4 linked regions of the Homo sapiens genome follow. The protein of the gene in region 2 interacts with the protein of the main gene of each other region in a pairwise test. Each region holds a gene or a part of one and is shown on either strand. Other genes may lie near its edges.

Region 1 (7,031 bases), on a different chromosome or scaffold from region 2:
TGCCATCAGAAGTTGACAAATGACCAATTGAGAGCAATCATTGAAGTTGATCGTCTTACAGCTAAGTGAGAAGCTGCCAAAGAACTCAACATTGACCATTCTACGGTCGTTTGGCATTTGAAGCAAATTGGAAAGTTGAAAAAGCTCAATAAATGGGTGCCTCAGGACCTGAAGGAAAATTTTTTAAAATTGTCATTTTGAAGTGCCATCTTATACTACACAACAATAATGAACCATTTCTCAATCGGATTGTGACGTGTGACAAAAAGTGGATTTTATACGACAACTGGCAACGACCAGCTCAGTGGCTGGACCCAGAAGCTCCAAAGCACTTCCCAAAACCAAACTTGCACCAAAAAAAGGTCATAGTCACTGTTTGGTGGCCTGCTGCCGCTCTGATCCACTACAGCTTTCTTCCTTTTTTTTTTCTTTTTTTTGAGACGGAGTCTCACTCTGTCACCCAGGCTGGAATGCAGTGGTACAATCTCAACTCACTGCAACCTCTGCCTCCGAGGTTCAAGCAATTCTCCTGCCTCAGCCTCTCAAGTAGCTGGAACTACAGGTGCACACCACCATGCCTGGCCAATTTTGTATTTTTAGTAGAGACAGGGTTTCGCAATGTTGGCCAGGCTGGTCTCGAACTCCTGACCTCAGGTGATCCACCCACCTCGGCCTCCCAAAGTGCTGGGATTACAGGCGTGAGCCACCACACCTGGCCCACTACAGCTTTCTGAATCCTGGTGAAACCATTACATCTGAGAAGTACACTCAGCAAATCAATGAGATGCACTGAAAACTGCAACACCTGCAGCCAGCGTTGGTCAACAGAAAGGGCCCAATTCTTCTTCATGACAATGCCCAACCGCACGACACACAACAAACGCTTCGAAAGCTGAATGCATTGAGCTATGAAGTTTGCCTCATCCGCCATATTCACCTGACCTCTTGTCAACCACCACTTCTTCAAGCATCTCGACAACTATTTGAAAGGAAAATGCTTCCAAAACCAGCAGGTTTTTGGAAAGCAGAAAATGCTTTCCAAATCCCAAAGCATGAATTTTTAAGCTACAGGAATGAACAAACTTATTTCTCATTGGCAAAAATGTGTTGATTATAATGCTTCCTGCTCTGATTAATAAAGACGTGTCTGAGCCGACTTATAATGATTTAAAATTCACGGTCCAAAACCGCAATTACTTTTGCACCAACCTAATACTTTATATAAATGGTACTATGATCTAATAATTATAGTAACATGATTTGCAAATACTAAAATATTTTGCTTGCCTTGTTCTATAAAATATATGTAATATAATCACTAATCTTTCATAATGTTGATCAGAATACTTTCCAAGTAACATTCAAAAAGTAATCACTTCTAGATGTATCTCTAATAACAGCAAAAACAACAGACTTCTAGATCTATAATTCGGCATCTATCAAGACTAATTGTGGCAGGCACATAATATAACACACTCCCAAAAGAGAAAAAAAATAGACATAACCTTCACCATAGACAGCACAGCCTTCACCATAATTTTTAAAGCATTAATATATTTCCACAAATAATATATTACCTCTTGAACTACATATAAAAATAATCCTTGAGGCAGCCTGGGTTCCAAATATATTGTCCTGAAATTGATAGACAGAAAACAAGTGATATTTGTACATCCATTTTTCTTTTAAGTTTCAGAAGAAAAGCAAAATCAAAAGTATGTTATATTAGCGCCATAGCTAACATCAACATGTTTGACATAAAAAGTACGTATTCTTCAACTTCAAGAAAGGAAAAGATTGTTCTTTGGCTCTAGTCCTAAGCTGGAAACAAGTAACCACAAAACCAGTTTTAAATCTACCCCAGTCAATCCATCCTTAAAGTCTACTCAACCTTTCCACTTAAGCACTTTGCCAACAAAGTAAGCCAATCAGCAACTGCCCCGCTTCAGTACCTTTGCTCCTCAAAGCCGGTCAGTCTCTAAACTCTAAGTTTAAAGCTGGCTAATCCTTAAATTTTTGCACTTTTCAAAATCAGCCAATCTCAAACTCTGTGCTTCCTCAAAACCCTACATAAAAACGTCTCTGCCTGTTTAAAGGACTGTCTTCTGCAAGCACGGTTCTCCCCTACCCAGCAAGTATGGTTTACCAAAACTCAGGTAAGTTTCTACTTAAGTCAAATTAGAATAGGCTTACAAACACTGAATTACCAATGATTCAAGTGGCAACATGAGTTTCAAGAAACCTAATTAAGTTAGGCAAAGATTCTGTGAATTTATCCAGAAATTGTCAGATTTATTTATTGGAGAATATCTGAAGACACAGAATAGCTCAGTGGAAACAGCCAAACTACATTATGAGTTGGGTGGCACTGAATAGGTTATTTAATATCTCTAAACCAACTTCTTTTTCTATAAAATGAGAGTAATAACTCTATTTCACAGTATTGTCAAGAAGATTAAATGGGATAACAATAACTGGTAACTTTAAAAGATTCCTAGGTACGGCCGAGCGCAGTGGCTTACGCCTGTAATCCTAGCACTTCGGGAGGTGAAGGCGGGCGGATCACGAGGTCAGGAGATCGAGACCATCCTGGCTAACACGGTGAAAACCCGCCTCTACTAAAAAAATACAAAAAATTAGCCGGGCTTGGTGGCGGGTGCCTGCAGTCCTAGCTACTAGGGAGGCTGAGGCAAGAGAATGGCGTGAACCCGGGAGGCGGAGCTTGCAGTGAGCCAAGATCGCGCCACTGCGCTCCAGCCTGAGCGACAGAGCGAGACTCTGTCTCAAAAAAAAAAAAAGATTCCTAGGTATAAAGTTCTAGATTTGCTTTCATCACTAACTTATTAACACATATGGAAAGTCATTTAACCTAAGTCTGTTTCTTCATTGGTCTAATAGTGAGGATAATGCATGCCCTACACATTTTATGGGCTGTTTGTAACAATCAAAAATGAAAATTAATGTGAAAAGGATTTTGACAGATATAAACCATGAAACTGTGAAATAGCTAATTTAACATATACAACAATAAAGGGAATTCACACTAGGAAACCTGTTACAATCCAGGATTATATAAAGTCCAGATTAAATTAATTTTAGTAAGAAAAATATTCATAGCCAAAAACAAATACAAAACCACTAGACACACTAGCAACCAAAAAAATTCAAGGCTACTATTATTAGCTCCAAGAATTATTTCCCATTCAGTAAATGAACCAAATTAGCTCAGCTATCCAACAAACTAAAAGCAGTACAACACAATCCTTTGTCCAAGTCAGGCATTTGCCACTTAAAACTACCACCTCCATTTCTAAAGCAAAAAAATAAAAAAATAAAAAAGGAGGAACAGAAGGAAGGAGGGAGTGAAGGAAGAAAAGATATTACAGAATTTCTCAACATCAGGAGTACTGACATTTTGAACTGGATAATTTTCTGTTGTTGAGAAGTTGTCTTGTACATTGTGGGACATTCAGTGACATGCTATAATGGCCTCAATCCACTAGATGCTAGGAGTAATGTCCCCACACACAAATGTGACAACCAAAAATGTTTTCTAGACATTGCCAAATGTCCCCAGAGTGTGTTGGAAAGTAAAAAATCATTCTGAGTTCAGATTCTTCACAGTATCATCTTCCAGTATTTATTTCACACTGCTTGGTGGCTTGCAATGCAGACTGAAATTAATAGCTTTGCAATTGAAGAACCAAATAAGAAAATACTCCCTGTAGAATAGTAACAACTTGAAGAATAATAGCTACGTAGTTATGGTTAAATTATTCCTTTCATCGACATACTGGTTTTGCTTACTATTCCCTAAGAATTTTCTTCTGGGTGTTCTTTTGGGGTTAAAACTTGGTTAACCTGTCACTAAAGCTTAGTCTCCACCTAGACTTACTAATTATTAGCCATTAGTGTAATGTGTTAAAATCAAACCTAAAGATTTTAATTTTTAAGCAACCAAATGTGAAATGAAGCAAAAATAAGTGCTACTTATATAAATTATTTAAATATATTCAAACATTTAGAGTGTAAAGTACACAAACAAGCATCCAGCTACTACTACAAATATATATGAGTTGAAGATAATAATGCAAAAATAAAAGTGATTGCAAGAAGTAGAATTTTGACAAAAACAAGAAATGGGGAAAGGATTCCCTATTTAATAAACGGTGCTGGGAAAACTGGCTAGCCATATTGAGAAAGCTGAAACTGGATTCCTTCCTTACACTTTATACCAAAATTAATTCAAGATGGATTAAAGACTTACATGTTAGACCTAAAACCATAAAAACCCTGGAAGAAAACCTAGGCAATACCATTCAGGACATAGGCATGGGCAAGGACTTCATGTCTAAAACACCAAAAGCAATGGCAACAAAAGCCAAAACTGACAAATGGGATCTAATTAAACTAAAGAGCTTCTGCACAGCAAAAGAAACTACCATAAAGAGTGAACAGGCAACCTACAGAATGGGAGAAAATTTTTGCAATCTACCCATCTGACAAAGGGCTAATATCCACAATCTACAAAGAACTTAAACAAATTTACAAGAAAAAATCAAACAACCCCATCAACAAGTGTGCAAAGGATATGAACAGACACTTCTCAAAAGAAGACATTTATGCAGCCAACAGACACATGAAAAAATGCTCATCATCACTGGCCATCAGAGAAATGCAAATCAAAACCACAATGAGATACCATTTCACACCAGTTAGATTGGCGATCATTAAAAAGTCAGGAAACAACAGGTGCTGGAGAGGATGTGGAGAAATAGGAACACTTTTACATTGTTGGTGGGACTGTAAACTAGTTCAAACACTGTGGAAGACAGTGTGGCGATTCCTCAAGGATCTAGAACTAGAAATACCATTTGGCCCAGCCATCCCATGACTGGGTATATACCCAAAGGACTATAAATCATGCTGCCATAAAGAGACATGCACACGTATGTTTATTGTGGCACTATTCACAATAGCAAAGACTTGGAACCAACCCAAATGTCCATCAATGATAGACTGGATTAAGAAAATGTGGCACATATACACCATGGAATACTATGCAGCCATAAAAAAAGGATGAGTTCATGTCCTTTGTAGAGACATGGATGAAGCTGGAAACCATCATTCTGAGCAAACTTTCACAAGGACAGAAAACCACACACCACATGTTCTCACTCACAGGTGGGAATTGAACAATGAGAACACTTGGACACAGGGTGGGGACCATCACATACCAGTGCCTGTCGTGGGGTCGGGGGAGGGGGAAGGGATAGCATTAGGAGACATACCTAATGTAAATGACGAGTTAATGGGTGCAGCACACCAACATGGGACATGTATACATATGTAACAAACCTGCATGTTGTGCTCATGTACCCTAGAACTTAAAGTATAATTTAAAAAATAAATTTAATTAAAAAAAGAATTATATTTAAATGCTCAGTATGTACTATCACTGGGCTAGACACACTGTTTTCAACAATAAATCTTCATATATATAAAAGTACTCATAAAATAGTTTAAAATTTGCTTGTGCAAATGTAAATTTTAAAAGGAATCTGAATTTTATTTACTATCTAGGATGTTATATTTCGCATGGTCAGTGTTAGAAACAGAGGGTCCTGTTGTTTTCAGATAGAACTTACCATCACTCCCCCTCTGCTGGGAGCTACCTGACACAATTAAATAACCATCAACCTGCCCTCACTGTGCCTGAACTTAAAAGTCAATAACACCTGAGCATCAATAGGCTATTGACTATGCAATTTTACTTTATACCATATATGGGTATCTGATGTTCCTGGGAAACTAACTGCAAATGTGGTGTAAATAAAGACTAATCATTTCAACTCCATTAAATGTAGGGAAGCTACAAGAGCAGATTTAAAACGTTGTGAACTGCAAAATGAGATGGCACCCCTCTACATTTACGTTAGTAGAGGGCTTCTGTTTAGAGTAATCATAGATCTGGTTATTTAGATACTTTCCCAATGAAAGCTTAAAACAAAATATAATTTTATATATTTTTAAAAATTCTGAAATTAACCATAAAATCTACGGCAGTGCAATTTTATATAATTCTTACATGGTTTAAATTTGAAATACTCATGTTAGGAAGTAACAAAATTGTGACAACTGTTGAGGTTATGGTATGCCATGAAAGATCTACGGGAACAAGACACATCTTTTTTTGTTTGTATTTTTCTAGTCTCCATGTTCTACAATGATCCAGCTATACGAGATGTAATCTGCAATTCCACCTACAATATATATCACCAGATCCCCTTTCTATGACAAAAAAAAAATACATGTCAATGTTAGAGATGGTCAGCAAAGAAACTCAAACTTATTCCAATAGGTGGAACTTTGGCATGACACACTTAAACCGGTGGAAACCTGCCTGAATACTTCACCCAACCCCTCCATCACCCTCTATTATGCAAGCTGCAACATTTCAAGCCAACTCCCTTATTTCTCTGGTGAGCCCTGTCAACACTGAGGTAATAGAACTGGAAAAACTCATCACTTCAAAAGGACAGTCAAATATCAGAATTTATTTCATTTGGTAAAAATTCTATCATTGCCAAATAAAGCTAATGCAAATATAGTAAAATATGCATGATTTTGAGTAATTCTTTTGTTGAAAAGGACTCTTGGGGAGCCTCAACTTCATCCTGCAACAGCTTAGGCATTCTTTTGCCCCTTTGCCCTTTTCATGCCCCATCTCACAAGTCATGGAAGCTGGGGAGGGGAGGGTGCAGAAAACCCAAATGAACTAATCGGCATGTATTTATGCATTTAGTCTACTCTAATTTTATTCCCACAGGTTTTTCCTCATACCCTGCTCCTCTAAGGTAAAGAACTGTTTTATTCATCTCTGAACTTCCAAAACCTAACCAAATGCCCATTATATAAAGTCATCCCTAACATCTACTACACAGCAGGCACTGGATTAGGGACTAGAGATAGAGAAGTCAAAGAGACAGACCTTGCCCCTACGGAACCTACAGTGGGGAATACCAGATACT
Region 2 (7,403 bases):
CTGAAACAGGAATAGTTATGGAAGATGGGCCCCAAGGGACTGGTGGCACCAGGTCAATGAAAGCTGCCTCCTGCTCTAAGAGCCCACAGAGCTCCAGCGCTGGAAGATCCTGAAGTACTCACCTTGTATTCCTTGTGACGCACATAGATGCACAGCTCAAATGGTTTGCCATCTTCAAAGGGTAAATAGTAGCATTTCTCCTCATATCTCCATATGCCAAACACACAACTGTTCATGATTGCAGGATGACCAAAGTGCAGTCGGAATTGGAAAGCAATATCTGAGTCCTCATCCATCCCAGTGTAGAAATTCACCTCCAGCTGTGGGTCCTTGCTGAGGTCAAAGCACACAGCATGTTGGGCAGGTCCCCCCATTGTGCAGACACACACTCGCCACACACACAAATCCCTTCCCCCCTTTACCCAGGGCAAAAAGTCTCCCCGATGATACTGCAGTCCTGGTCCCTGTGGGGACGCTTTAGCTCCTCATGCCCCCAGGCAGGGAGATGCTGTGTTCCTCATCCCCAGACAAAAACTGAGCGCCAGTCAGTGACATGGGCCTATGACTTGTTCATTTCCTGAAAATTCTATGCCCTTTAATAAAGAGCCACAACCCAAACCCACTGAGTGTTCTCCTCCCCTAGGTTCCGTGGCTGGCCTGCATGCAGTTTCTACAGGTCTCATGTCTGTTGCTGGAAGGTCTCCAGGGCCTGCACTTGCATGAGGCCTTCATTATGCCAACTAGAGTTTTCCACATCACTCACACATAAGGTTAAACCCTTAGCAAATATTCTCCCTTCTCTCCTCCACCCCCTCCATTGGACCATGGAGTACTCACACAAAAGTGAGGATCGGTGTCCCTGTGATTATCACGCACGAACCAACAGGCAAGGAAACAGGCAGTGTGTATGGTACCTGCCAGGGTATGGAGAGTGAGTGAGAGCTAAAGGGTAAGGTGTAACCTCCCCTATGTAACAGATTCCCATGGTGCAGGAGGTTAGAGATCAAAGGTCAGACTCTGAGGCCTCTCCCCTTTCACCCTACCACAGTCAGGGCCCCATATTCCTGAAGATATGGTGGATCCATAGGTAAGAGCAATTGTTCAAGAGCCCGGATGCCTGGATTCCAGTCCTCATTTTGCCTTATACTAGCAGTGCAATCTTAGATCTATTACTTAACCTCTCCCTGCCTCAGTTTCCCCAGGACAAGGAGGACTATCAGGAATTCCTACTTTGTAGGGTGTTCTCAGTAATAGAGGAGTTAATATAGGTAAAACTTTTACCCTAATCCCTGGCATGTATAGGGTCAATTAGGGGTGACCTAACAGAACAGGGGAGTCCTCCTGAAACACTGACCTGCCTTATTTTCAACTCAGAAAATGAAAACAAGACTTGAGGGTGAAAGAATTTAAAAATTCACTCCAGTGAGAAACAACACTTGTTGAAAGAGAAAGGGAAATGACGAAAGAACAGGAAACCCCTGTGTGTGGGATGTACACGCACCACAATCATCAAGGGCAATGGACGTCCTTCCCAGAAGCGGCACACATTACTGACAGCACAGCCCCAGTACTTGCACAAATGAAGCCTGTGGGTCAGGGACATAACTGGAGGGAATGATTGATTTCTACGACGACTGCAAGTGGTTGATGATTTTTCTGTATTTTTGAGATAGGGTCTTGCTCTGTCACCCAGGCTGATATGCAGTGGTGCAATCACAGCTCACTGAAACATCGAACTCCTGGACTGCAGTGATCCTCACACATCTGCCCCCTCTTGTGTAGCTGGGGTGAAAGGTGTCTGCCACTCTGCCAGTCAGATATTTAAAGATTTTTAAAGAAAGCATATCACTATGATGCCTAGACCGGTCTCAAATTTCTGGCCTCAAGTTACCCTCCCATCTTTGCCTCCCAAATTGGTGGGATTATAGTCATGAACCAGTGAACCCAGCTGCTTTGTTGAGTAATGTCCACAGTAAGCACTGTCTGAATTCAGACAGCTTGTTCTTTCATGAGTGGAGGAACAAGTTTAGTCTCAGTTCAGACAGAGCTTACAGTGGATATTTTGTTTGATTCCGTCTCTTTAACCACGGCCTCTAATATTCTTCCCTGGCAAATCAGTATCTTCACACTCGCCTGTTCCACAATGGGAAGAACAGGCTGGGCTAGCGACAGGGAAGCTGAGCCTGGGAGGCAAAAGCCAGTGATCACTCTGTGCAGTCCCCACCTGAGGAACCATCTCTCCCATAATCTGCGTTCCTTTTCCTCACTCTTACTGGGAAGAGATATCTACTGATGATATATTTCGCTCTCATAAGTGATCTGAAACGAGTCCTTGGTAACTCACAATCCCCAAGATCCCCACCAGTTAAGCCACTTGGGATCCACATTGCCACACATGAAAAGACACACAGGTGCTTCATCAGAGGTGCTGCTGTGTGGGGAGGAACCTTCACATGCACAGAAGGCCACGTGCATGTTTTCCCTTCAATACCCAGTCACATCCCAGCACACACACCCATAGTCACACAGAGCCATGCCACTCACTGAGTTACACACACCTGCTCACTGTGCACATAAAGATGACCATGCACTGGTCTGGCTGTGCCCACACACACTCACATCACAGACAGGAAGACAAAGCACACTCACCCCCTTACACTCACTCACACACTTGCCGGTCCTGGTGGGTCATCCACCTCCCACCTAAAGTCACTTAATCTCAGCAGAGTTCACTCTCATCAGACACCACCACACCCTCACAGAGGGTTACACTGGTCCAGGGTCCACAGCCTACACCCACAATCATCTCAGATACCACAGCCTCAGGGTTTCTCTTCTACACACCCACAACTCTCGGTAATGCATTCACAGTAGGAATGCTCATATTTTCAACTCAGAAAACCTCCCCTGTTTCTTTCTTGGTTTATGTGACTTGAGATTATTGAAGGCTGTGACTTTTCAACTCACGGGTAGTGATGACATTGTTCTCTCCTTCTGGGCAGCTCTTCGGAATTGTGTCCAGTCTTCTGTGTGAATCTCTGAGTGGGATCATTTAAATGCTGCAACTCAGAGATGCCCTTTGGCTTCATGCCAGATTCCAAGCCCCTCCCAGCAAGCTTTCCGTGCAGCAGGAGAAAGACTCAGGTGTCAGAAAGAAACTCTGTCACAACCATAGATGTTTGCAGGTCTGTGTCTGTAATGCAGCAGAAATGACAGTGGGGGAGGTACCAGGCTGTGGATTGGGTTACCAGGGAAATGCATAGATAAGGATGATGGAGTGAGGGGTAGGGATTGTAAAGCCCAGCCTTTGTGCCTCTCAAGCTTTTTCTCCAGTATGCAGAATCTAGCCAGAAGGTGTACATTTCCTCAATTTGTACAATGACTAAAAATAAAAAATTGGGAATTTTGGAAAAAGACGTTAGACCTAGAAGGTAATTCTTCTCTTTGCCTTTAAAGGTTCTGGGAGGGCCTTTAAGGGTCAGATCCTTTTGACCTTGATCCTCAGGAGGATCTGGGAAGAGAAGTAGAGATAGTTCTTGCATGAACCTGCCTCACACTAGGCCCCTTGGATCTGCCAGGTGAGGGTCACTCTCATCTGTCTGTCACATACCTGGGCTCTAGCTGCATTCTCTGCTTTGTCTTGGAGTCCATGTAAAACAAAGTTTCAGAGATATTGTTTCTCCTGCAGATTCTGGGAGAAAGATGAGATTTTTTTTCTTTTTTCTTTTTTTTTACTTTTATTATAGGTTCAGGGGTACATATGCAGATAAAGTCATGTCATGAGGTTTGTGGTACATATGATTTCTTCACCTGGGTACTAAGCGTAGTACCCAATAGTTATTTTCTCTGCTCCTATCTCACCTTTCACCCTCCAACCTCAAGTAGGCTTCTGTGTGTGTTGTTCCCCTATTGGTGTCCATGAGTCTCATCATTTAGTTCACAATTATAAGTGAGAACATGCAGTATTTGGTTTTCTGTTCCTGCATTAGTTTGCTAAAAATAATGGCCTCCAGCTCCATCCATGTTCCTGCAAAAGACATGAACTCATTCTTTTTTAGGGCTTCATAGTATTCCATTGTGTATATGTATCACATTATCTGTATCCAATCTGTCCTTGATGGCATTTGGGTTCATTCTGTGTCTTTGCTATTGTGCACAGTGTTGCAATGAACATTCATATGCATATGTCTTTAAGGCAGAATAATTTCTATTCTTCTGTGTATACAGTAGTGTATACACCATTCCCAGTAATGGGATTGCGGGGTTTAATGGTAGTTCTGTTATAAGCTCTTTGAGGAATCACCACACTGCTTTCCACAATGGGTGAGCTAATTTACACCACCGCCAATAATCTGTAAGTGCTCCTTTTTCTCCACACCCTTGCCAGCATCTGTCCTTTTTTGACTTTTTAAGAAGAGCCATTCTGACTGGTGTGAGATGGTATCTCATTGTAGTTTTGATTTGCATTTCTCTAATGTTCAGTGATATTGAGCTTTTATTATATACTTGTTGGCCACCTGTATGTGTACTTTTGAGAAGCGTCCCCTGTCTCTACTAAAAATACAAAATATTAGCCGGGCCGGTGGCGGGCGCCTATAGTCCCAGCTACTCAGGAGGCTGAGGCAGGAGAATGGCATGAATGCGGGAGGGAGAGCTTGCAGTGAGCCAAGATCATGCCACTGCATTCCAGCCTGGGGGACAGAGTGAGACTTCATCTCAAAAAAAAAAGAAAAGAAAAGAAAAGAAAAGTATCTGTTCTCTGTTCTTGTCTTTTCTCGCCTTTTGTTGTTGTTTTAAGACAGGTCTCACTCTGACATTCAGGCTGGAGTGGTGTGGCTCCATCTTGGCTCACTGCAACCTCTGGCTCCTGGGCTCAGGTGATCCTCCCAGCTCAGTATCCTGAGTAGCTGGTACTGCATACCAGCTGTGCAGACCTCACCTAAGGGACCAGTACCCCCGTAGTCTGTATTCCTCTTCCCCACACTTATTGGAAAGAGACACCTACAGATCATACATTCTGCCTTTAAATTGTTCTTTTTGCCTTTAAAGATTCTGGGACAGCACTGCCCTTGATCCTCAGGATGATCCGGGGGGGAGGTAGAGAACGTCCTTGCATGAACCTGCCCCATGCTAAGCCCTTTGGCTCTACCAGGTGAGGGCTGCTCTCATCTGTCTGTCCCACACCTGGACTCTAGCAATACTCTCTCCTTTCTCTTGATGTCCATGTGAATCAAAGTTTCAGAGACACTGTTTCTCCTGCAGATTCCAGAAGAAAGGTGACATTGGTTTTTTTCTTTGTTTTTTAAACGTTTATTTTATGTTCAGGGGTACATATGCAGGGAAACTCGTGTCATGGGGTTTGCGGTAAAGATTATTTCACATCCAGGTACTAAGCCTAGTACCCAATAGTTATTTTTTCTGCTCCTGTCTCACCTTTTACCCTCCACCCTTAAGTAGGTCTCAGTGTGTGTTGTTTCCCTCTTGGTATCCATGGGCCTCATCATTTAGCTCACACTTCTAAGTGAGAACATGCAGTATTTTGTTTTTCATTTCCACATTGGTTCACTAAGGTTAATGACCTCCAACTCCATCCATGTTCCTGCAAAAGTCATAATCTCATTCTTTTTTGAGGCTGCATAGTATTCTATGGTGTATATGTACCACATTTTCTCTATCCAGTCTGTCCTTTATGAGCTATTAGGTTGAGTCCATGTTTTTGCTATTGTGCATACTGTTGTAATAAACATTCATGTGCACGTTTTTATGGTAGAATGATTTATATTCTTCTGGGTATATACTCAGTGATGGGATAGCTGGGTTGAATGGTAGTTCTATTTTAGCCATTCGAGGAACCATCACATTTCTTTCCACAATGATTAAACTAATTTACACTGCCACCAAAAATGTGTAAGTGTTCCCTTTTCTTCACAAACTTGCCAGTTTCTGTTATTTTTTGACTTTTGAATACTAGCCATTCTGACTGGTGAGAGATGGTATCCCATGGTGGTTTTGATTTGCATTTTTCTAACGTTCAGGGCTGTTGAGCTTCTTTTCATATGCTCGTTGGCCACATGTATGTCTTCTTTTAAGAAGTATCTGTTCCTGTTCTTTGTCTACTTTTTTTGAGACAGCCTGGTCTGACACCCAGGCTGAAGTGCAGTGGTGAAATCTCGTCTCACTGCAACCTCTGCCTGGGCTCAGGCGATCCTCCCAGCTCACCTTCCTGAGTCCCTGAGATTACAGGTGCCTGAGACAAGACTCAGCTAATTTTTCTATTTTTCATAGAGATAGGGTTTTGCCGTGTTGCCAAAGCTGGTCTTGAACTTCTGGACTCAAGCAATCCACCTACCTTAGCCACCCAAAGTGCTGGAATTACAAGCGTGAGCCACTGCACCCAGCCCTTTGCCCACTTTTTTATGGGGTTGTTTGTTCTTTTCTTGTAAAGTTGTTAAAGTTCCTTATAGAAGCTAGATATTAGACAATTTTCAGATACATAATTTGCAAATATTTTCTCCTATTCTGTAGGTTGTCAGTTGACTCTGTTGATAGGTTCTGTTGCTGTGCAGAAGCTCTTTAGTTTAAATAGATCCATTTGTCAATTTTTGCTTTTCTTGTGATTGCTTTTGGCATCTTTGTCAGGAATCTTTTGCCTATTTCTACATTCGGTATGGTACTGCCTAGGTAGACTTCCAGGGTTTTTATAGTTTTGGGTTTTACATTTAAGTCTTTAACCCATCTTCAGTTGATTTTTCTATATAACGCAAGAAAGTGGTTCAGGTTCAATCATCTGCACGTGGCTAGCTAGTTATCCAAAAATTATTTCCATTGCTTGTTTGGTCAACTTTGTCAAAGATCAGATTGCTGTAGGTGTGGGACCTTACTTCTTGCCTCTCTTTTCTGTTCCATTGGTCTATGTGTCTGTTTTTATGCAAGTACTATGCTGTTAGGTTACTCTGGCCCTATAGTGCAGCTTGAAGTTGGGTAATGTGATGCTTCTAGCTTTGTTCTTTTTGCTTTGGAATATCTTTTATTCAACCCACTCGGTTCAATTAATATTTAAAATATTCATTTTAAAATAGATTGTTCTAATTCTGTGAAGAATGTTATTGATAGTTCAATAGGAATACCATTGAATCTGTACATTTCTTTGGGCAATGTGGTTGTTTTAATGATAGTTATTCTTGCTATCTGTGAGCATGGAATGTTTTTCCATTTGTTTGGGTCTTCTCTACTTTTTTAAGCAGTGTTTTGTAATTCTCATTGTAACAATCTTTCACCTCCCAGTTAGTTGTATTCCTAGATATTCTATTCTTTTTATGGAAATTGTGAATGGAATTGCATTCTTGATTTGGCCCTGTGGTTCGTTGTCTTTGGCATGTAGGAATTCTAGTGATTTTTGCACA
Region 3 (7,031 bases), about 22 Mb from region 2:
AAACCTTCTTCATCCACCTCTGGACATGTCTAGGGGAGTCAGGGGGCAGCAGTGAGTCAGGCGCCCCACTATCGAACCTTCCATCTCACCCTGCCAACCGCCCCCCGCCCTGCCCCCAGGCCTTGACTCAGACCTCAAAACCAACCCTGATGGCAACGACTGTCTTCCCTGGGTGTGTGGGCAGGTTCCTGGGACAAACTGAGCTTCGGCAGGGACATTATTCACACCCACGTAGTCCATGGGACTTTGCAGCTGAGGTGGGATATGAACCCAGCCCCCAGGCTCCAGCCCGCCCCTCAATCTCGGCTCTTTAGTTTCCAGTAGGGATCGGGACTCTAGGAGCCAAGAGTGGGATCAAACTCCTTCCACTTGTAGCCCAGCCTGACCCCTCCCACATCACTCACCCCTGAATCGGGCTCCAGGAAATCTCTGGGGATGGAGGAAGAGATGTTGGTGTCAGCTTCCGCAGCCCATCTGGTGCCCCCTGTCAGCCCCCAACACTGGACATGGAAGCTGGGGCAGCTCCCAGACTGTGATACTGCCCTGAGCTAGCCCTAGAGGCGGTGGGACCATGGGGCTTGCTTGGGGAGGGGGTTGAATCTGAAGTTAGCTGAGTAGAGAGTGTTCTCAAACAGCCTGGGAGGGAAGGAATCCTGGAACTCATTTGAAGGGCTGCCTTGTGAAGATAGGGAAAGTCGGGGCTAGCCTTGGCAAACAGAACAATCCTGGGCCAGCTTGGGCAGGGAAGATGCTACGTTACTCTGGGACAGGCAATTCCTGGCCTAACCTAGCAAAAGGAAGAATTCTGGACTAGCTTGGGCAGCGGTAATATTGAGCTAGCCGGGGGCAGAGGTACTCCTGGTCTAGCTCAGGTAGAGGGAATCCTGGTCCAGCCTGGAATATGGATACTCCTGGGCTATCCTAGGAGGGGACTTCTGGGATAGCCTGGGCAGGGGAGGGGATCTCGGTCTAGCCTGGGCCAGACCGGGCAGGGGTGCTTCCTCACACAGCTGCAGGTGGCTCTGGCTCCCGCTCCCGCCGGCTTAGTCCTGGAAGGCGAAAGGCCTTGGCTCCCCGCAAACGTTTCATCGCTGAGGATAGATTGGGGGGCACCTGAGCACTGTGAGCCTCCTTTCACATTCAGATCAGCCTCCCTCACCCCCATGGTCCAGCCTGGGCATCCAGGCCCAGACGTACTTGCCTTCCTGCAGGGCAGCCGCACTGTATGCCTCGAAGTCCAGAGGTCCTGAGACAGGAGACGGAAACTCAATTGAGGGGCTGGGCACGGTGGCCCATGCCTGTAATCCCAGCACTTTGGGAGGCTAAGGCGGGCGGATCACCTGAGGTCAGGAGTTCAAGACCAGCCTGGCCACCATGGTGAAACCCTGTCTCTGCTAAAATTACAAAAAAGCCGGACATGGTGGCAGGCGCCTGTAATCCCAGCTACTGGGGAGGCTGAGGCAGGAGAATCGCTTGAACCCAGGAGGCGGAGGTTGCAGTGAGCCGAGACTGCACCACTGCACTCCAGCCTGGGTGACAGAGCAAGACTCTGCCTCAAAAAAATTAAAAAAAAAAAAAAAAGAGAGAGAGAGAGAGAAAGAAACTAAATTGAGGGTGGGGAGACTGCGCTTGGAAAGGGTAGTACACTTTTGGCCACAAAATGGCACCTGGATCTGAACTCAAGGTCCATCAGGTTCCCGGACAAGAACCAGCCCCACATCATCAGAAGTGGGATGGACCAAGGGGCTGGTCTGGTTCCAGCAGGGCAGTGCCACCGCAGGGGGTGACATGAGCTACTTCTACATACTTCCAGCATTTGTGGCTGGAACTTGGGTTGGGTCGGGGAATGGACCATGCGTCTGTGCAGTGGGCTGGGCTTTGAGTGACAGGATAAGGAGTGGGAACTCTCTCCCAAGAACAATGGGGAGCCATGGAAGGTGTGTGAGCAGGAGGAGGACAAAACAGATCTGGGGCCTGTGAAGGGCAAGAGTGGGGCCCCATGCAGGGAGGGGAGACCTGAGCCAGGCCTGAGCCAGAGCGACAGGAGGGAGAAAGAACAGGTTTTGCTAGTTAACAAGACTTGAGGACGTAACTGTATACCAGCATTTAGTGAGTGCCTACTGTGTGCCTGGCACACCCTTTGCCCTTTACCTGCATGAAATCACTGAATGTTGCAACATTATTACATCCTCACTTTACAGATGAGGAAACTGAGGCTCAGAGAAGTCAAAGCACAGGTCCTAGGTCACACAGCAAGCGATGAAGAAAAGACTCAAACCCACGTCTCACTCTAAAACTTTTGCTCTTAACTCCTTCCCAGTCCTGCATCTGCGCATTCCCAAATTGTTCTTTTGCTCAACAACCCTCAATGGCTCCCTTAGGCCCTGGGGGTGAAGTCTGATCAGCCAAGCCTGGCATTCAAGGCTCCTCTGGGATCTGGTTCAAAGACATTTACACATAAGATCAGGCTGGAGAGCTGGACTTGTCAGCAGCCCATTTTTCCCATGAAGAAACCAAGGCCTGGCCATGTGCAGTGGCTCACGCCTGTAATCCCAGCACTTTGGGAGGCCGAGGCAGGCAGATCACCTGAGGTCAAGAGTTCGAGACCAGCCTGGCCAACATGGTGAAACCTCGTCTCTATTAAAAATAAAAAAATAAAAAAAAAATTAGCTGGGCATGGTGGCACATGCCTGTCTGCAGCTGTGGCCCCGAAGCCCGACCCCCAATGGCTGCCCTGACTCACCAGGCTTCTCCCGGCCTGTGCCCTTACTCTCTGCAAACTTCCTGAGTAGCATCTCCACGCTGACGTTCTCGATGTTCTGCTTAAATTCCTCATGCACCTGTGCCGGGTGGGCGGGGTGTGTAACTGGTCAAGGCCCCTTTGCCCAGCAGTGACCCCAGCCTCATTCCTCACACCTGCCCAACTCACCTGCCCAATCTGCACGTGCGTGTCCTCCACCGAGTGAGCATATGAGCCCAGCAGTGCCTTCATGTGCCTCAGGTGTGTCTCCTCCATGGCTTGGAAGCGCTGAAGCAGGAGGGCAGAGGCAGGTGGAAAGGAGGTCAGGGCCAAGAAGAAGTGGCCATATGACTCAGCCTGACCAATCAGAATACCCTAAGCCCTTGGCTCAGTGATTGATTTGGGGAAGGGCCAATGAGAGTCTGCCCTAGGACTTTCATTGACTCTACAGGAAAAGGCACTTCCATTCCTGAGCCAATGTGCTGATGGGATGTAAGTGGGGGTTGCTGGTGCCCAGTTTGATGCACACATGTGCATGCTTGCACACACATGCACACACACACACACACAAGGGGATGTCTGTGTGGGAGTGATGTCCCCAGAGAGAAAAACAGACTTAAGAAGCAGAAATAGTGGTCAGCTGTGGTGTATCATGCCTGTAATCCCAGCACTTTGGGAGGCCAAGGCAGGTGGATCATCTGAGGTCAGGAATTCAAGACCAGTCTGGGCAACATGGTGAAACCGTTTCTACTAAAAATACAAAAATTAGCTGGGTGTGGTGGCACGTGCCTGTAATCCCAACTACTAGGGAGGCTGAGGCAGGAGAATCACTTGAGCCCAGGAGGCGGAGGTTGCAGTGAGCTGAGATCACGCCACTGCACTCCAGCCTGAGTGACAGAGAGATCCCATCTCAAAAAAATAAAAGAAGCAGAAATTCACAATTTCCTGCCAGCACTATTTGAGCACATGGATTCAGCTATGACTGAAACCTCCACAACTCAAAAATAAAACTTTACAGTTCCCTGAGCTTGTCAGTTTTTTTAAATTTTATTTTTTATTTTATTTTTTATTTTTTTGAGACAGAGTCTCGCTCTGTCGCCCAGGCTGGAGTGCAGTGGCGCAATCTCGGCTCACTGCAAGCTCCGCCTCCTGGGTTCTCGCCATTCTCCGGCCTCAGCCTCCTGAGCAGCTGGGACTACAGGCACCCACCACCACGCCCGGCTAATTTTTTTGTATTTTTAGTAGAGAGGGGGTTTCACCGTGTTAGCCAGGATAGTCTCGATCTCCTGACCTCGTGATCCACCTGCCTCGGCCTCCCAAAGTGCTGGGATTACAGGCATGAGCCACCGCGCCCAGCCTTTTTCTTTTCTTTTCTTTTTTTTTTTTATATACACCTGTCGGTTTGAATGAAGGCTTCTATCACTTGTAACTTGAAAAAAGTTCTGATTCCTAATCCTCAGATTCCAATCTGCTTGAATTTATTTTATTTTTTCGAGACAGGGTTCCACTCTATCACCTAACCTGGAGTACAATGGCTCGATCTTGGCTCACTGCAACCTCCGCCTTCTGGTTCAAGTGATTCTCCCGCCTCAGCCTCCTGAGTAGCTGGGATTACAGGCACCTGCCACTACGCCCGGCTAATTTTGTATTTTTAGTAGAGACAGGCTTTCGCCATGTTGGCCAGGCTGGTCTCAAACTCCTGACCTCAGGTGATCCTCCCGCCTCGGCCTCCCAAAGTGCTGGGATTACAGGTGTGAGCCACCACACCCTGCCTGGGATTTCTGCAGTCCATAACCTCCAGGGCAAAGGCATGTGTGGGTCTTAAAGGTACAGATGCCTGGTTCTTACCAGGGCTGAGTCCAGCATCTTCTGCTCAAAGTCAGCTCGGGCTGAGTTGTATTTTTCCACTGAGCGCCGCAGGCTCTCTGCCGCCTTCTTGGTTTTAGTCTCCGCCTACAAAGCACAGGGAGGAAACGGGGATGGGAGGGCGATACTCAGGGGGCCTCCCCCAGGCCCCATCACCTGGCAGGTGAACTCCTCGGGGTACCCAGGGTGTGATCACCCACAGGTTCCAGGACCGTCGCTCTGGGATGTGTTTCCACTCTCTGATCAGGCAGCCCCTCCGCCCCGCGGCAAATTCCTCAGAACCCCCCCACTGTGAGCCCACCTTGTCCATCTCCTTCTGGCTGGTACTCTCCCTCCGCAGCCGCTCCTGGTCCATGCAACGGTTCAGGTAGTTCTCGCGGGACTTGGGCAGGAGCTGGCTGACGCCCGAGAGTACCTGCACAGCATCCAAGGTGCTCACCACTTCCTCCTTGCACTGCGGGGTAGGAGGGGATTTCATGGGTAGACTGTGAAATTCCTGACCTCCCAAACACTCCACGTGATGTCAGCTCCACAGTCTTTTTCTATGTGTGTGTGTGTGTTTTGGTTTGGTTTTTTTTAGACAGAGTTTCGCTCTTGTTGTCCAGGCTGGAGTGCAGTGGCACGATCTCGACTCACTGCAATCTCTGCCTCCCGGTTTCAAGCAATTCTCCTGCCTCAGCCTCCCAAGTAGCTGAGATTACAGGTGCTCACCATCACACCCAGATAATTTTTTGTATTTTTAGTGGAGACGGGGTTTCACCATGTTGGCCAGGCTGGTCTCTAACTCCTGACCTCAGGTGATCTGCCCACCTTGGCCTCCCAAAGTGCTGGCATTACAGGTGTGAGCCACCACGCCCGGCCTCTGTGTGTGTGTTTTAATAGCAATGGGGTCTTGCTATGTTGCCCAGGCTGGTCTCAAACTCCTACACTCAAGCAATCCACCTGCCTCAGCCTCCCAAAGTGTTGGGATTACAGGTGTGAGCCACTACGCCCGGCCTGTACGTTTTTCATTTCAAAACATTTTTAACTTTAAAAAAAAGTACTATTTACACATGGTTCATATTTCAGAAAGTTGTAAGAGGTAAGCCAGGAAAAAGCCTCCCATATATGGGCCCTCCAGCCTAGAAGTCCCCAATTATTACTGTGATACTTCTCTAGAAATAATCCGCATATGGATAAAGATGCTTGTTCTAACCCAAGTTTTATGACAAACAGTGGCAGACTGTGTTGCTTAACTCACCGTTTTGTGTGTGTGTGTGTGTGTGTGTGTGTGTGTGTGTGTGTGTGTGTGTGTGTGTTTGAGACGAAGTCTCGCTGTGTCACCCAGGCTGGAGTGCAGTGGCGCGATCTTGGCTCACTGCAAGCTCCGCCTCCCGGGTTCACGCCATTCTCCTGCCTCAGCCTCCTGAGTAGCTGAGACTACAGGCGCCGCCACCACGCCCGGCTAATTTTTCTTTTGTATTTTTAGTAGAGACGGGGTTTCACCGTGTTAGTCAGGATGGTCTCGATCTCCTGACCTCGTGATCTGCCTGCCTCGGACTCCCAAAGTGCTGGGATTACAGGCTTGAGCCACCGTGCCAGGCCTTTTTTTTTTTTTTTTTTTTGAGGCGGAGTCTTGCTCTTTCACCCAGGCTGGAGTGCAGTGGCACAATCTCAGCTCCCTGCAACCTCCGCCTCCCGGGTTTAAGCGATTCTCCTGCCTCAGCCTCCCAAGTAGCTGGGATTACAAGCATGCACCACCATGCCCGGCTAATTTTGTATTTTTAGTAGAGACAGGGTTTCACCATTTTGGCCAGGCTGGTCTTGAACTCCCGACTTCAGGTGATCTGCCCGCCTCAGCCTCCCAAAGTGCTGGGATTACAGACATAAGTCACTGTGCCCAGCTTTTTTTTTTAAGAGATGGGGTCTCACTGTGTTGCCCAAACTGGTCTCTAACTCTTAGGCTCAAGCAATTCTCACACCTCAGCTCAGCCTCCCAAGTAGCTGGGACTACAGGCATGCACACCACGCCTGGCCTGCTTTTACCACTTAAAAATTCACTCCTGGCCAGGCACAGTGACCCATGCCTGTAATGCCAACATTTTGGAAGGCTGAGGCAGATATGTTAGATGTTTGACCAGCCTGGGCAACACAGCAGGACCCCTTCTCTCTCTCCTTTTTTTTTTTTTTGCCTTGTTTTGTTTTTGAGACAGAGTCTCACTCTGTTGCCCGGGCTGGAGTGGTGTGTCGCGATCTCAACTGACTGCAACCTCCACCTCCCAGGCTCAAGTCATTCTCCTGTCTCAGCCTCCTGAGTAGCTGGGATTACAGGTGTGTGTGCCACCACGTCTGGCTAATTTTTGTGTTTTTAGTATAGACAGGGTTTCACCATGTTGGCCAGGCTGGTCTGGAACTCCTGACTTCAAGTGATATGCCTGCCTCAACT
Region 4 (4,827 bases), on a different chromosome or scaffold from region 2:
GCCGGGGAGCCCCCAGCTCCCCTGCCACTGGTGTCCTCCCCTCGCCGCAGGGCAAGTCCACCTCTCTCTCCAAAGCCAGCCCTGAGAGTCAGGAGCCTCTGATCCAGTTGGTGCAGGCGTTTGTCCGGCATATGCAAAGATAGGGCAGTGCTGTTCTGCCCACCTACCCCTCTCCACCAGCCTACACTGCACCCTGGCTGGCAGGGGTGCTGCTGGCTGCTAGGGCCTATACAATGGAGGGCACCTCCTGTCACCCCCCTCCCGGAGTAGCCACGACTCCAGCCACCACCCACTGACGTTATTTTTATACTAGATGAAGAGGTCAACAGCAGGCATGGGGAGCCGAGTCTTCTGTGCTCAGGTCCTCACGCTGCAGACGCCCCCTAGAGGAACTTTCCTTCCTTTCCAGCATTCCCCACAGCACTGCCGGCCAGGGGAGAGGCGGCAGCCCAGCAGAGGGCTCTATGCACGGGTTTCAAACCTGTTTTCCACACTCTGTCTTTGCAGTTTTGGTAATTCTGTGGTCTATTTATACAGATATTAAAATCTTGTTTATAGACAGCTGTGTGATGTTTAACTTCAAAGCCCAGGGATGACAACGTGGCTCTCAGAACCTAGAAAACTCCCCTGGCCAGGCGCCTGGGAGTGGGGCTGCAGCCTCGGGGGAAGGCAGGTACTGATGGATGGCTAGTTCACCAGCATCTCCTCATTCCTGTCCTTGGGCTGAGGGTTTGGCTGGGTGGGCGCTGTCAGATATTCCCTTCCTTGGCCTGCGCTGGTCCTGTCCTTGACCCTGCTTTCATTGGCCCAGTGGGCTGAGCTCATCCCTGGGTGAGCCTTTCTTGAAGCTCTGTGCCTTCCTATTTATAGCCCCGTGCCCCCGTCATCCCCCGATCCCCTCTTCAGAAGCCCCAACAGTGGGGCCTACTGGCTGTTGGCCTTCTCAGGACTGAAGTCAGAATGCTAGGTCCTGCTAGGGGCCATCTAAAACACAGACATCACTTAGGGTTTCTAGAATCAGGCTGCCTGGGCTTCAGTCCCTGCTTGGCCACTTGCCAACTGTGGTCCCTTGAGGAGCTGACTGTCTTGCTGATCTCATCTGTGAAATGTGGACACTGAGGACGGCATGAGAACCCATGGCACGGGGGCACATGCTGGGTGAAACGCCCGACCTGCAGACAGCACTGACCGCTACCCACTTCTTGTGCTTGAACTGAACTGTCAGACGCATTCTACAGTCCGCTCCACAATCCAAATTTAGGAAACTTTTTCTTAGGAATAAAACGTTCCTTGTGCGGCTTCATGTCCAGGAACAGCACTGCCCTCTGAGAGGCACAGGCCCCGCAGAAGACAGGGAGGGCTGCACTTCTTCCCAACTAGAGAGCTGGGGGCCGGGGCAGCCACAGGGCCCCTGCTCACTCTGTGGAAGAGTGGGGCAGAGGGTGAGTCTACCTTTCCCTTTACCACCCTCAGGGCCAGGCCCTGACAGGAGCCCAGGTGACTCGCACACAAGGACGGTTTATTGGCTAGAGAGCAAACGCAGGCAGAAGTAAAAACACCAGATAAAAAGTGAGTGTGGAGAGGTGAAGACTGCGGCCGCTGGACTTGGCTTGAGCTGTGAGGGGTGGGAGGGGAGGATAGCACCGGAAGATGCTGCTCCGGGCCCAACACCAGCCCTGGCCAGGCTCTCCCCTCCCAGGGGCAGCGCCCAGTCCCCAGGGGCTGCCAGAGCCCTGTGTGCCTTGCCGCATTCCCCTGATGCAGCTTTTGGCAACTGAAAGGCAGGGCTCTCGCTGAGTGCACCTGGGGCTTCCTGAGCCCATCTGCGGCGGCCCCACCCTGGCCTAGGTGCTGAGTGCAGCTGCTGCAGACAGCCCCTCCCTCCTTAGTGGAGCCTGGAGGGTGGGGTGCTCGGGGATGCAGGCAGGGGCAGGGGCTCCAGAGCCACAGGTCAGAAGCAGGGCTGGGGGAGGGGTGGAGCCATTCAGCCTCAGGCACCCTCACAGCTAGGTGACTAGGGGCAGGGACAGAATGGGGTGAATTCTCCCCACTCTGAACAACTGTGTCACCAACAAACAAGTTAAGTGGCAGGGCTGCGCCCATCCTCTCCTGCCTAGGCCAGAATGCGGGGGGGATGGGGGCACCTGCCTAGCTGAGCAGTTCCAAGTAGGTGACAGGGACCTTGCCCTTCTTGTTGCCTCTCTCGCCAATGAGCCAGTCAGGGTCCATGCCAGGCAGGCTGTAGACAGTGATGAGCTGCAGAGATGGCAGTAGAGGACGGTCATGGCCTGGCCAAGGGTGGAACTGGCCCCAGGACTAAGTGGGGACAGAGCTGCCACCTCCCCATGGCCCGTGGCATGTGCTACACCTTCAGTGGCTGGCGCTCATCTCACTTGCTCCAGAGACCCAGCAGAGCAAGGATCCTTTCCTCAGAGCTGGATATGCCCTCTTTAACCTGCTGGTCCCCACTTTGCCAACAGGGCCCCTCCAGGCCCCATGTGCCTGATCCCAGTGCCCAGGCTGCTCCTCACCCAGCCCATTCCTGCCCCACCTTGCGGCACCGGGCCCACCTCATCAGCCAGCAGGGCCAGCTCACTGCTGTCGGCTGCCTCGTAGTCATAGAGCACCCGAGCTTTGCGGGTCCCACTGGCAGGGGGGGCCACCTCTTCCAGGCAGAGCGAGGCCTCCCCCGGAGGGGCCAGGCTGGCCACAGAGGGCACCACAGGCATAGTGGCCGCAGCAGTGGTGGGTGAGGTGCTGCTCAGGGGTGGGGAGGCGGGCTCTGTGGTGCCCACGAAGGTGCCGGGAAATCTGGAGAGGAGGGATACATCTTAGCAGGTGGGAGTCCCAGAAGGGACCCCAGAGGCAAACTCCCCTCCCCAGCCCCAGGAGCCCCACTCCAGCCCCGGCTACTCACATGGCACCCTGGGAGCTGGCAGCACAAAGGGAAAAGCAAAGCAAGGGAAGGGTGAGATGGCCCCACCCCCTGGTCCCTGCCATCCTCCCCACCCAGGCATTCCCTAGAAACCCTCAGGGGCTCCAGGGGACTTGGCCGTCAGTAAGGCCAGCCACTCCACCCTCATACACATGAGATGCCCGCACCCAGAGTGGGTTCCAGCAGAGCCCTCCAACCCAGCTTTGTGTCACAGGACTTGCCCAGAGGAGCTCATGCTGCCCACGGACAGGGTATGGGAGCCAGGGGGCCCCAGTGGGTTCAGCAGTGCTGGCCCCGCACCTGCCCAGCTGCTTCTGCAAGTCCAGCATGTGGCGGTAGCACTGTGCGTAGTAGGTTGTCTGAGACTTGACGAACTCGTGGAGGCAGCGCAGGTGGTTCACCTGCGGGGAAGAGGCCAGAGGCTGACTTCTAACCTCCCGCCCTCAGAACAAAAAATTCCGTCCCCATCCCCGTCCTCTACCAGACCTTGCTCCGGCATTCCAGGGTGCCCTGCCCCTGCGCCCACACCCTCCCCGGTGGGACTTGCTCTGTGAGGGCCATTCTGGGGCAGCCCTGCTGACCTTGTGGTTCAGGCACACCTGGTGCCTGCTGAGGGTTAGGTTTAGTGAGGGTGGGCAGTGGGACTCACGTGAGTGCTACTGATTCCCTCCAGCAAGAGACGGGTCACTTCTGCTTGCCGGTCAAACTCTGTCTGGGCCACGCGGAGCTCCTGCTCGGCCTGGGCAGGGCAGGGCAGCCATGAGCACCCACACACCACCCACCAGCTTCCCCGCAGTCTTCTCCTGGAGCCTACCTGGGAGCCGCCTGTCCCTTTCCCCTGGGAACACAGAGAGCCTTCTGGGTCTATGCCTGACTTCACACCTGGAGCCCCAACCCCAGAGAAGCTAGAGCCCCACTCAGGACCCCACAGGCAGCTGCAGTGACAGACCCTTCCTCCATCACCCATCGGAGAAATCCACCCAGCAAGTGCATCCTGAGGGCCTACTGTGTGCTACAGGGTACTGTGGAGAAAACATTTCCCCACAGAGGGGAAACTGAGGCCCAGGGAGGGAAAGCAGTAACCCCTCCCCAGTGGGTGTGGGGCAGAGTGAGAAACAGATCAGACCCCACAGCAGCAAGTGTGCCTGCACCCCGCCACCCCTTCTTCCTCGAGCCCAGCCCCCCAGGCCCCAACTTACCTTGTCCACTTCATCATTCCAGAGCTGTGGAGACGGCAGCAGGAGTGGCCAGCAGGGGAGGGGAGAGGAGGACAGCTGGACCCTAGAGCCTGTGCCCTGCCCCAGCTCCCAGACTCAACTTCTGCCCCCCTGCCCCTCTGCCCCCCCTCCCAAACAGGAGCTGAGACTGGGCCGAGGCCCGGCATGGGAGCTGGGGGCTGGCGGTCCCAGTCCCTCTAACATGCCTCATGCAGGAGGGGAGCAGCCAGCAGGAGTCCTGCTTATATTTCTCCTACAGTGTCAGCCCCATTCTCTGAGTGGGGTCTCAAGAGAGACGGAGTGTCCCCACCCCATCCTGACTGCTGGCTCAGGCTGCTGGGCTGGGCGGCAGAACTGTGTGACCCTGGGCCAGTCACTGAAGCTTTCTGTCCTCTGGCAGAGAAAGGTGGCCTCGTGCTTGAGTCACACTGGGACTCAATGGCAAAAGAAAAACAGGGCAGTCTCCACCCTCTAGGATGTTTCTCCTTCCACTGGGCACAGGGAGGAGGCGGGAAGTGGCATCCAGACCCTGAAGAAGAAAGACGCTGCCCGGCCACGACCAGGAGACCCAGCGCTCCTGCCGCTTCCGGAGATCTGACCCGAGACAACAGCCTGAAATAGGGAATGCGGACCCAGGCCAGTGTGCGTGGCCGGCCCGTGTGGCCCCCATGCTGC

Evidence for each region.
Region 1: the proteins of LGALS14 (region 2) and ZNF438 interact in binary tests that used the Homo sapiens proteins (3 or more experiments, as listed by UniProt).
Region 3: the proteins of LGALS14 (region 2) and FCHO1 interact in binary tests that used the Homo sapiens proteins (3 or more experiments, as listed by UniProt).
Region 4: the proteins of LGALS14 (region 2) and SH3GLB2 interact in binary tests that used the Homo sapiens proteins (3 or more experiments, as listed by UniProt).

The regions. Positions count from the first base shown.
Region 1 is NC_000010.11:31,021,843-31,028,873, forward strand, and holds part of ZNF438 (zinc finger protein 438), read right to left. Parts: intron 2,562-7,031; exon of another isoform or gene 1,578-2,561; intron 1-1,577. UniProt on the Homo sapiens protein: Isoform 1 acts as a transcriptional repressor.
Region 2 is NC_000019.10:39,700,108-39,707,510, reverse strand, and holds the start of LGALS14 (placental protein 13-like), read right to left. Parts: upstream 3,031-7,403; 5' UTR 2,983-3,030; coding exon 2,968-2,982; intron 1,807-2,967; exon of another isoform or gene 1,604-1,806; coding exon of another isoform or gene 1,502-1,603; intron 915-1,501; coding exon 838-914; intron 334-837; coding exon 123-333; intron 1-122.
Region 3 is NC_000019.10:17,768,454-17,775,484, reverse strand, and holds part of FCHO1 (F-BAR domain only protein 1), read right to left. Parts: intron 5,061-7,031; coding exon 4,908-5,060; intron 4,694-4,907; coding exon 4,589-4,693; intron 3,029-4,588; coding exon 2,930-3,028; intron 2,841-2,929; coding exon 2,744-2,840; intron 1,247-2,743; coding exon 1,202-1,246; exon of another isoform or gene 1,198-1,201; intron 1,092-1,197; coding exon 1,007-1,091; intron 430-1,006; coding exon 405-429; intron 30-404; coding exon 1-29. UniProt on the Homo sapiens protein: Functions in an early step of clathrin-mediated endocytosis. Has both a membrane binding/bending activity and the ability to recruit proteins essential to the formation of functional clathrin-coated pits.
Region 4 is NC_000009.12:129,006,536-129,011,362, forward strand, and holds the end of SH3GLB2 (endophilin-B2), read right to left. Parts: intron 4,231-4,827; coding exon of another isoform or gene 4,159-4,230; coding exon 4,135-4,158; intron 3,675-4,134; coding exon 3,585-3,674; intron 3,337-3,584; coding exon 3,236-3,336; intron 2,933-3,235; coding exon of another isoform or gene 2,918-2,932; intron 2,812-2,917; coding exon 2,571-2,811; intron 2,257-2,570; coding exon 2,149-2,256; coding exon of another isoform or gene 2,007-2,148; 3' UTR 501-2,006; downstream 1-500. Other genes in the region: nucleoporin NUP188, read left to right, coding at 1-143.